Linked DNA regions of Homo sapiens: region 1 is linked to region 2. Evidence: fine-mapped expression QTL. A gene starts in region 2. The other region holds a variant in brackets. All regions are shown on one strand. Distances are from middle to middle.

Region 1 (4,380 bases), 47 kb after region 2:
CAGGTGATCCACCTGCCTCGGCCTCCCAAAAGACTGTTCATTTCTATAGCCCCAGTCTCTAATATGGCATCTGACACATGGAAAGTGCTCACTGGTGAAAGAGTAAGTGGGACAACTCACTATAAATGGCTGTGGGGCCCATTGCTGGAAATATCCCCAGAGAGAATAGCACTGGGGCCCCTAACCATTCCAAGTAATGTTTAAGAATTATAATATGGAACTCTTTCTGTTCCAAGTTACACTGAGGCCCCAATATGACAGATATCAGTATTAGTTATCTATTGCTACATAACAGATTACCTCAAAATTTAGTAGCTTAAAACAATAATAAACATTTATTATCTCAGTTTCTCTTGATGAGGAATTGGGGAGTGGCTTAGCTGGTGTTCTGGCTTAGGGTTTGTCATGAGGTTACAGTCAAAATGTCAAGTAGGGATGCAGTCATTTGAAGGCTTGACTGGGGCCGTATGATCTGCATCTAAGATGGCACGCTCACATGGCCAGCAAGATGGTGCTGGCTACTGGCAGGAGGCCTCAGTTCCTTGCCATGTGGACCTCTCCATGGACCTCCCTGAGTAGCTTCATGACATGGCAGCTGACTTCTCCCAGAATGAGTGGTTCAAGAGAGCAGGGAGGAGGTCACAATGTCTCTTATGACTATATTAGATCCACAGGGCTGCTGTAACAAAGTACCACAAGCAAGATAACTTAACAGAAATTTACTCTTTCACAGTTCTGGGGGCCAGAAGTCTGAAACCACATTGTCAGCAGGGTCAGAACGGTGGCACATGGAAGGTGCTCATTGGTGAAACAATGAGTGGGAAAGAATAAATCATTCCTTGCCTCTTCCAACTTCTGACGGCCGCAGATGTTTCTTGGCTTGTGGCTGTATCATTCCAATCTCTGTCTCCATCTTCACACGGCCTTCTCCCTTGTGTCTGTCTACTCTTTGTCTCTCTCTCCTTATGAGAACACCAGTCATTGGATGTAGGGCCCACTCTAGTCAAGAACAACCCTTGATTACAACTGCGAAGACTATTTCCAGAAAAGGTCACATTTATAGGCCCTGGGGGTTAGGGCTGCAACATATCTTCTGGGGGACATCATTAAACACACAACAATGACCTAGCCTCAGAAGATGCATGCCATCAGCTCTGCAATAGCAAGTGGCTACAAGGGTCGGCCCTGTTCACGGAGGGAGGAGACACAATGATGTGAATACCAGGAGATGGGGACAATGAGGGGCCATTGTGGAAGCAGGCTACCACAATATCATCAGATAGCAAACTGAACATGAGACAGACTCCCATATGTAGTATTTACAAAGGAAATAATGGGGAACCAGTTGCATAGCACTCAGGGCCCTCAGCCTACCAACAATATAGAGTGTGGAGAATGGGGAGAGTTTGGAAATAGAAACTTCCAGAAAGGGCAAAGCCATGCTGTAAGCTACCCCACCAAGGAGTTAGGGGCCCTACTGCTTTCAACTCAAGCCTAGTGATGGGGGCTTCCATGCAGCCACTTGGAGCTGTGGGCCCCCATGGGACTGTGCCAGGAGGGACTGCATTAGGATGAGTGAAGGGGCTGTGTGAGTTCTTCCCATGGGCCACATGTGGATCAGATGGACCATGGCAGGAGAGAGGGCCAAGGTGGGGGTCATTTTAAGTCCTGTAGGGCCTCTGAGAAGGGCAAAGGGATGTCAGCAGAAAGAAGTTGGAAGAGGATGCTGGATTTCTAGGGGTTGAAGATGGAGTCATAGCTGTACCTGAAATGGAGGTGCAGAACAGGGAACTTCAGGAGAAAACCTTAGAGATGGGAACTTTTTTTTTTTTTTTTTTTAAGACAGGGTCTCACTCTGTTGCCCAAGCTGGAGTCCAGTGGCCCAAACTCGGCTCACAGCAACCTCTACCTCCTGGGTTCAAGCAATCCTCCTGCCTCAGCCTCCCAAGTAGCTGGGACTACAGGCGTGCAGCACCACCCCCAGATACTTTTTGTATTTTTGGTAGAGATGAGGTTTAGCCATGTTGCTCGGGCTGGTCTAGTACTCCTGGGCTCCAGTGATCTGCCCGCCTCCGCCTTCCAAAGTGCTGGGATTATAGGCGTGAGCCACCAAGCCTGGCTGAGATGGGAACTTCTGAAGAACACAGGGAACCCTCCAGAAAGAGCTTTCACCATCTGCCACACCCAGAGAGCTGGCAATCATACAGTCAAGTAAAAACTGCCCTATTCCCCTGCTCCCCATCCGCTTCCCTGCATCCTCACCCACCACCTCCACTTAGACTCTGAAAGCAACCAGCAAGTGGGGAGAGGGGTATTCGGGAGAGAATAGACAAAAGCCACCATGCCCAGTCCCTGGCAGCTGGCAGCCCCCAACTAAGGCCTTAACTAGGGCAGGAGGAAGAAGATTTCTCTTTGAAGAAAAATGCAAGAGTCATTTAATATCTTTGGGTGGCTGCTTTAAATCTCTAAGTCGATACTGGATTTCGTGACATAAAATGT[A/G]CATACCTAAGCATGACCAGAAGAGCCTCGGGGTCAGCTGAGCTTTCAGCCAGGGGAAGGGGAAATGCTTCCCTTGCTTTAGCTCAAATGCACAGTGAGAGCCAAAGCAAATTGAGTTACATGTTGGTTCCACCCCACATTCAAGGGATTGGTTTCACCGAATCCCCGCCTCCACAGGGAATTGGGTCTTATATTTCTTACCCCCAACCCTCCCCGCCATGGCAGAGCCACAAGGAGGTTCCTGAAGAAAATCCCTTCTCGGCTTTTGTGCAGAATTGAAGAATGTTTACTATGTTTTCCTTCCTGTCTCTCTGGAAATGACGCAAAGAATAACAACAACAAAAAAGAACTCCTTGTCCCGTGCAAAACACCCGCCCCTCCCCCGCCCCTGACCTCCTAACTCTTCACCCTGTGTTGGCCTGACTTCACCCTGGGATGGGGAAACTTCCTGGGAGGATATAGCTGACCTGGGAACAAAACTTGTTTTTTTGAAAGCTTTGTGCAACGTCAACTAAGTTGGGGGAGGGGTCTGGGCAAGGAAAGAAGAAAGCAAAGGGGGGCAGGGTGGGAACAGTTCTGCTAAACCAAACAATTCCCCAGGGATGATGGAGCTGTGGTGACCTGATAAGTCCTTTAAATGTCTTATTAATTACTGGGGGAAAAATTGGCTACTTCTGAGTCTCCCCTCTCTCACTGTCCTTGCACAAGCTTGGGACTAGCTCTGTCCTTTTTTAAGAGTCAGTCTTGGGCCGGGCATAGTGGCTCACTCCTGTAATCCCAGCACTTTGGGAGGCTAAGGCAGGAGGATCCCTTGAGGCCAGGAGCTTGAGACCAGCCTGGGCAACATAGCGAGACCTCATCCCTACAAATAATTTTTAAAAATTAGCTTGGAGTGTTGGTGTGTGTCTGTGGTCCCTGCTACTCAGGAGACTGAGGCAGGAGGATTACTTAAGCCCAGGCAGTGGAGGCAGCAGTGAGCTGTGATTGCACTATTGCACTCCAGCCTGGGTGATAGAGCAAGAACCTATCTCAAAAAAAAAAAAAAAAAAAAAAGAGTCCAGCTTTTTAAAGAAGGGTGCCCCTTGGTGGAAGACAACAGGACAAGGCAGGAGCTGGGGCTGCGGAGAGTCCGGGGTCTGCAGAGCATGGGGCTGCCATCAGAGACCCACCAGGCAGGTTCCTGCTCCTAGCAAGGACCCGGCTGAGCAGAGATGAGGGTGTGGAGGTGAACCTGGAAAACATGCAGAGGATTCTAGACACATTCCACAGTCAGAGCCTCTGGAAAGCCCACCTTCTCCATCACAGAGGCTTTGGGGAATAGACATCCTGTTTCTCTGTATTATTACAGCACAAAGCATTTATCATGCTGACAATGACAGTGACATTTCAGGACCTAAACAAGCTTAGTTGTTCACAGCTTACAGGAGAGAAGGCTCCTAACACTCTTTATTTATTTATTTATTTGTTTGTTTATTTATTTTGTTTTTGTTTTTTTTTGTTTTGAGACAGAGTTTCGCTCTGTCGCCCAGGCAGACAGAGTGCAGTGGCAAGATCTCGGCTCACTGCAAGTTCCGCTTCCAGGGTTCACGCCATTCTCCTGCCCAGCCTCCCGAGTAGCTGGGACTACAGGTGCCTGCCACGGCGCCTGGCTAATTTTTTGTATTTTTAGTAGAGGCGGGGTTTCACCGTGTTAGCCAGGATAGTCTCCATCTCCTGACATCTTGATCCACCCACCTCGGCCTCCCAGAGTGCTGGGATTACAGGCGTGAGCCACCGCGCCCGGCCTATTTATTTGTTTTTTGAGACAGAGCCTTGCTCTGTCATCCAGGCTGGAGTGCAATGGTGTGATCTCGGCTTATTGCAACTTCCACCTCCCAGGTT
Region 2 (4,380 bases):
CGAAGACGACGCGGAGGACGACGTGGCCGATACACCCGGGGTACCCCCGAGACAAGCGGGGCCCCCAGGAGCCCCTGGGGGAGCAGGCGTCGGGGGCCCACGGCTGCCCAGGGCGTGGGGAGGGGGTGGGGGGAGTACCGCAGCGCTGGCCGGGCCGTTAAGCAGCGTCTGCGGTAGCAGGTTGGGGGGCACGGTGAGCTGGGGGCCTCCGCCACCCCCCGGGTTGGGCAGCCCCGTAACCAGCCCACCGTGCGTTCCACGCCGAGACGCCACCGACGCCGCCGCTGAAGAAGAATTGGGGCTCTGACGGTTCAGCTCTGGGGGTCCCTCCTCTGGTGTTGGTTTGGGGAAGCCGTTTGGGCCCCCCAGGCCGTTGGGCAGTCGCGCGGTGTGGCTGCTGCTTCCCAGGCTCACCGGCGGTGGCGGGTACTCGAAGCGGCTGCGCTGTTCCACCGCAGCGGCGGCGGCGGCGGCGGCGGCGGCGGCAGCGCTTAGGCCGTAGCGCTCCAGGCCAGACGGGGCCGCCAGCACCGCAGGCTTGCTGGAACCATCAACGTGGTTGAGCTGTTGTTGCTGCTGCTGCTGCTGCTGCTGCTGCTGCTGTTGCTGCTGCTGCTGCTGCTGTTGCTGTTGCTGTTGCGCGGCGGCGGCGGCGGCCGCCGCTGCTGCCGCCGCCGCCGCCGCTTCCTTAGCCGACAGGGCCACTGTCTTGACCCCGACGGGCGGCGGCGGCCCGGGGGAGCGGCCGTCCTGGAAGCAGCCGTGCGCCCGCTTCAGCTGGCGCGCTGTCTCGATCACGAATTCGATGCGATCAGCGCCCTCGTAGTTGACGCAACCGCGGCATACGGGTTCCGAGAAGTCCCAGATCATGGCCCAGGGCATGCGGGGCAGGTCGCACAGGTAGCAAGATTGTCTCCGGGACGAGGACACCTGCGCCGCCGACATGATGCCTGCCCTGGGGAAGGTAGGCCCCCGCCCGGGCTGTCTCCGCGGCGCCTTCTCCTCCGGGAGGACTGGCCGGCTGGGGAGGGAGTCCGACTGCGGGGGAGGGAGGAGGGGGGGCGAGAAAGTTCTGCCCCAGGGGCTGGAGGGAACGCGAGTCTCCACCGCCGGCGCAGCGCCTCGCCGTGGGGGCTCCACCGCCCGGGCAGCGGACGGGTTCAGCCCTCTCTTCGCCCCCACCTCCTACTGCGGTTGACTCGTCGCGAGGGGAGCTCAGGCGCCTTCTTCCTGGTGCTGCAGACTTGGGCTGGAAGCTCCCGGCCCGAGGGGAGGGGGCGAGGGTGCCCGGTGGTGGCCGCCGTTGCCTCTTGGCCCCCTCCCCGGAGTGGCTGGTGCGTGGAAGCTCGAAAGGGGCTGTCTCTTCCTCTCCCCGGGGACCCCCCTACGAGCTGCGTCCTCTCCCCGACGGGCCCCCTGGGGCGAGGGCCAGAGGGTTCAGTGCCACCCGGTGCCCGGGTCCAATCTTGCTGAAGCCGCTGCTTCCCCGGAGGACCGGGGGAGGGGGTGGCAGCCGAGAAAGGACCTTCTCCCCTCCGCAGCGTCGGCCGTTCTGCTGGCGGCGACTGGGTTTGCACCCCGGAGGGAGCCGCCGCGGCCACTGCTTCCAGGACGCACGAGAGCAGAGGAGAGGAGTGCACGCACGCAGGCTCCCGCCGCCCCCAGGCCTGGCCGGCGCCCGGGCCGCCGCGGCTGGCGGCGCTCACGTTGGCTGCAGGGCGCTCGCGCGGCGCCTCGGCCCGGGTCGCATCCCTTCCCGCTCGTGCTCACGCTCGCCCGGAATGTGGGGTTGTGATTGTTACTCTACGTTCCGGAGGCGCGTCTCGGCGCTCCTGCTCCGGCTGCGGCTCGCGCTGTCCCCGGCTTGGCCGCGCGGGATGCCGCCCGGGCGGAGCGCTGACGTCACCGCCATGCTCTGCACCAGTTCTTCCCCCTCCCCTTTACACTTCCTCTGTGGAGCCCACTTGTTGCTCAGGCAAGGCGCATGCGCGGCAGGACGCCCAGATTCCTCCCAGCCGGCCCCTCCTCCGCGCCTCCGCCCTCCCCTCCCCCCTCGCCGTGTGTGTACAACAGCTGAGGCCCGGCGAGCTAATGCTGGAAGTCCAGAGCTGGGGGTGGAAATTAAACAGACGATGACCTTTCCTTTCCCTGCCGGGCATTCCCAAGTAAAAACGCATTTAAGAACCACTAGCGTCGTTTCCGATCCCTGCTCCCCACCCCACCCCCAAGCCTCGGCAGTGAATTTAAATGTCCTGTTTCAGGATTTTTCGCCGTGAATTTCGTATAAGGTATTAACCATTTCATCTGCGGTTGAACCTTATCCCCCCCGGCATGGATGTTAAATTCATCGCCACCACTGATGCCGAAGCACCTGCAAAATTAGCTGTTTTCCAATCTTCCAGAAATTGTCTTTTCTATTTGTTTTTGTGCCCTGATCTAGGAACCCGGGCTTCAACGATAGAGCTAAATGAATTCAGAGTGCGCTACCCTTCCCCCCAGCCGCACTTTAAAAATTTTGGCTGAACGTCTGAAGAAGATACGAGCACCCCGAGGCCTTTAAGGAAAACAGGCAACTGGCTGCGCACAGCTGCAGTTCAGGGCAGGGAGGGGGAGGGGCCGGAGAGGCCAAACAGGTGAGTGTTTTTTCTAGAGTTTGATTTTTAAAAGGTGGAGGCAGCATTTAATAATACTGATACATTTTTGTAAAGCACAGCCGCAGTTTTCAAAGTTCTTTCTCAGGCGCTGTGATCTCACTCCATGTTGCCCCAGAAGGCGGAACAAGGCCGTGATTTTTTTTTTTTTTTTTTTTTAAGACGGAGTCTTGCTCTGTCGCCCAGGCTGGAGTGCAAAATGGCGCGATCTCGGCTCACTGCAACCTCTGCCTCGCAGGTTCAAGCGATTCTTCCGCCTCAGCCTCCCAAGTAGCTGTGATTACCGGCACCCGCCATCAGGCCCAGCTAATTTTTTGTATTTTTGTAGAGACATGGTTTCACCATGTTAGCCAGCTGGTCTTGAACTCCTGACCTCAGGTGATCCTCCCGCCTCGGCCTTCCAAAGTGCTGGGATTACAAGCATGAACCACCACGCCCGGCCAAGGCCGTGATTTCTTCTGCCTTACAAGATCACTGCTCATCAGTATTGCTTATGGCACGATGGATATGTTGGTCATAGCTCTAGTTGGGGCATTTCTATTGATTATTCTAATTATTGGGTTTGCTTTTTTTTTTTTTTTTATTTCATGAAAACTGAGATAATCCCAGGGAAGGCTGGAGAAGGGAAAGCAATATAATGGGATTTCGGATTCTGAAGTGTGGCCCACCAGATTGAAATTTCCTCTCCATCACTAACTGGCTCTCCACCCTTAAGCTAGTTACCCACAAAATCTCTCTTTTCCATGGAAAAGAGAATGGAATGATAGCTCCCAGGTTGTTAGGGTTGTTTGAGATTTCAACTTCGGTTTTTTGTTTTTTTGAGATAGGATCTTGTTCTGTTGCCCAGGCTGGAGTGCAGTGGCACACTCGCGGCTGGCAGCAGCCTGACCTCCCAGGCTCAAGTAATCCTCCCACCTCAGCCTCCCTAGTAGCTGGGACTACAGGCATGTGCCATTACACCTGGCCAATTTTTTTGTATTTTTGGAAAGGGATGGGGTTTTGCCGTGTTGCCCAGGCTGGTCTCAAACTCCTGGGCCCAAGTGATGCACCCACCTTGGCCTCCCAAAGTGTTGGGATTACAGGCATGAGCCACCTCACCCGGCCTCAATTTGTTTCTTGTCATAAGAAGAGATAACGCTTACTTAGACTTGCCGTGGGACCTTAGTAAACTAGGTGGCTTTACTTGCATCACCCTTAATATTATCTACATTATTAAGGGGATATTATCTATAGTATTTTGTTGTTGTTTTGAGACAGAGTCCACTCTGTCACCCAGGCTGGAGTACAGTGACGCAATCTCAGCTCACTGCAACCTCCACCTCCCAGGTTCAAGCAATTCTCCTGCCTCAGTCTCCCAAGTACCTGGGGATACAGGCGCCCGCCACCACACCCAGCTCATTTTTGTATTTTTAGTAGAGACGGACTTTCACCATGTTGGCCAGGCTGGTCTCGAACTCCTGACCTCAGGTGATCCTCCCGCCTCAGCCTCCCAAAGTGCTGGGATTACAGGCATGACCCACCGTGACCGGCCTATTACAGTATTAAACCCTTAATATTATCTACAGGGTAGATTCTTTTACCTCCATTTTACAAACCAGGAAAGTAAAGAGGCTATATAACTTGCCTACAGCCATTAGTGATGGGGCTGGGATTTGAATCCAGTAAATCTGATTTGAGGTGTCTTTGACAAGCTCAGGCTTGCAGAGGTGGTTTGGGGTGCTCAAAATTC

Evidence for each region. PIP is the estimated chance that this variant, and not a neighbour inherited with it, causes the effect.
Region 1: its variant is fine-mapped to the expression of IRF2BPL in whole blood (TOPMed, PIP above 0.99).

The regions. Positions count from the first base shown.
Region 1 is chr14:77,073,600-77,077,979 of GRCh38, forward strand. LINC02289 (long intergenic non-protein coding RNA 2289) reads right to left here and starts at 2,592. Exons shown (of 3, transcript NR_110553.1): 1 at 2,506-2,592. RefSeq lists a silencer at 2,447-2,741. The variant A/G (reference allele first, on the strand shown) is at 2,500.
Region 2 is chr14:77,026,848-77,031,227 of GRCh38, forward strand. It overlaps IRF2BPL (interferon regulatory factor 2 binding protein like), which reads right to left and starts at 1,861. Exons shown (of 1, transcript NM_024496.4): 1 at 1-1,861. The coding sequence starts at 945. It overlaps LOC107984638 (a long non-coding RNA gene), which reads left to right and starts at 621. Exons shown (of 4, transcript NR_190002.1): 1 at 621-964; 2 at 2,441-2,633; 3 at 2,814-2,889; 4 at 2,980-4,380. RefSeq lists silencers at 991-1,490, 1,611-1,820, 2,021-2,150 and an enhancer at 2,914-3,434.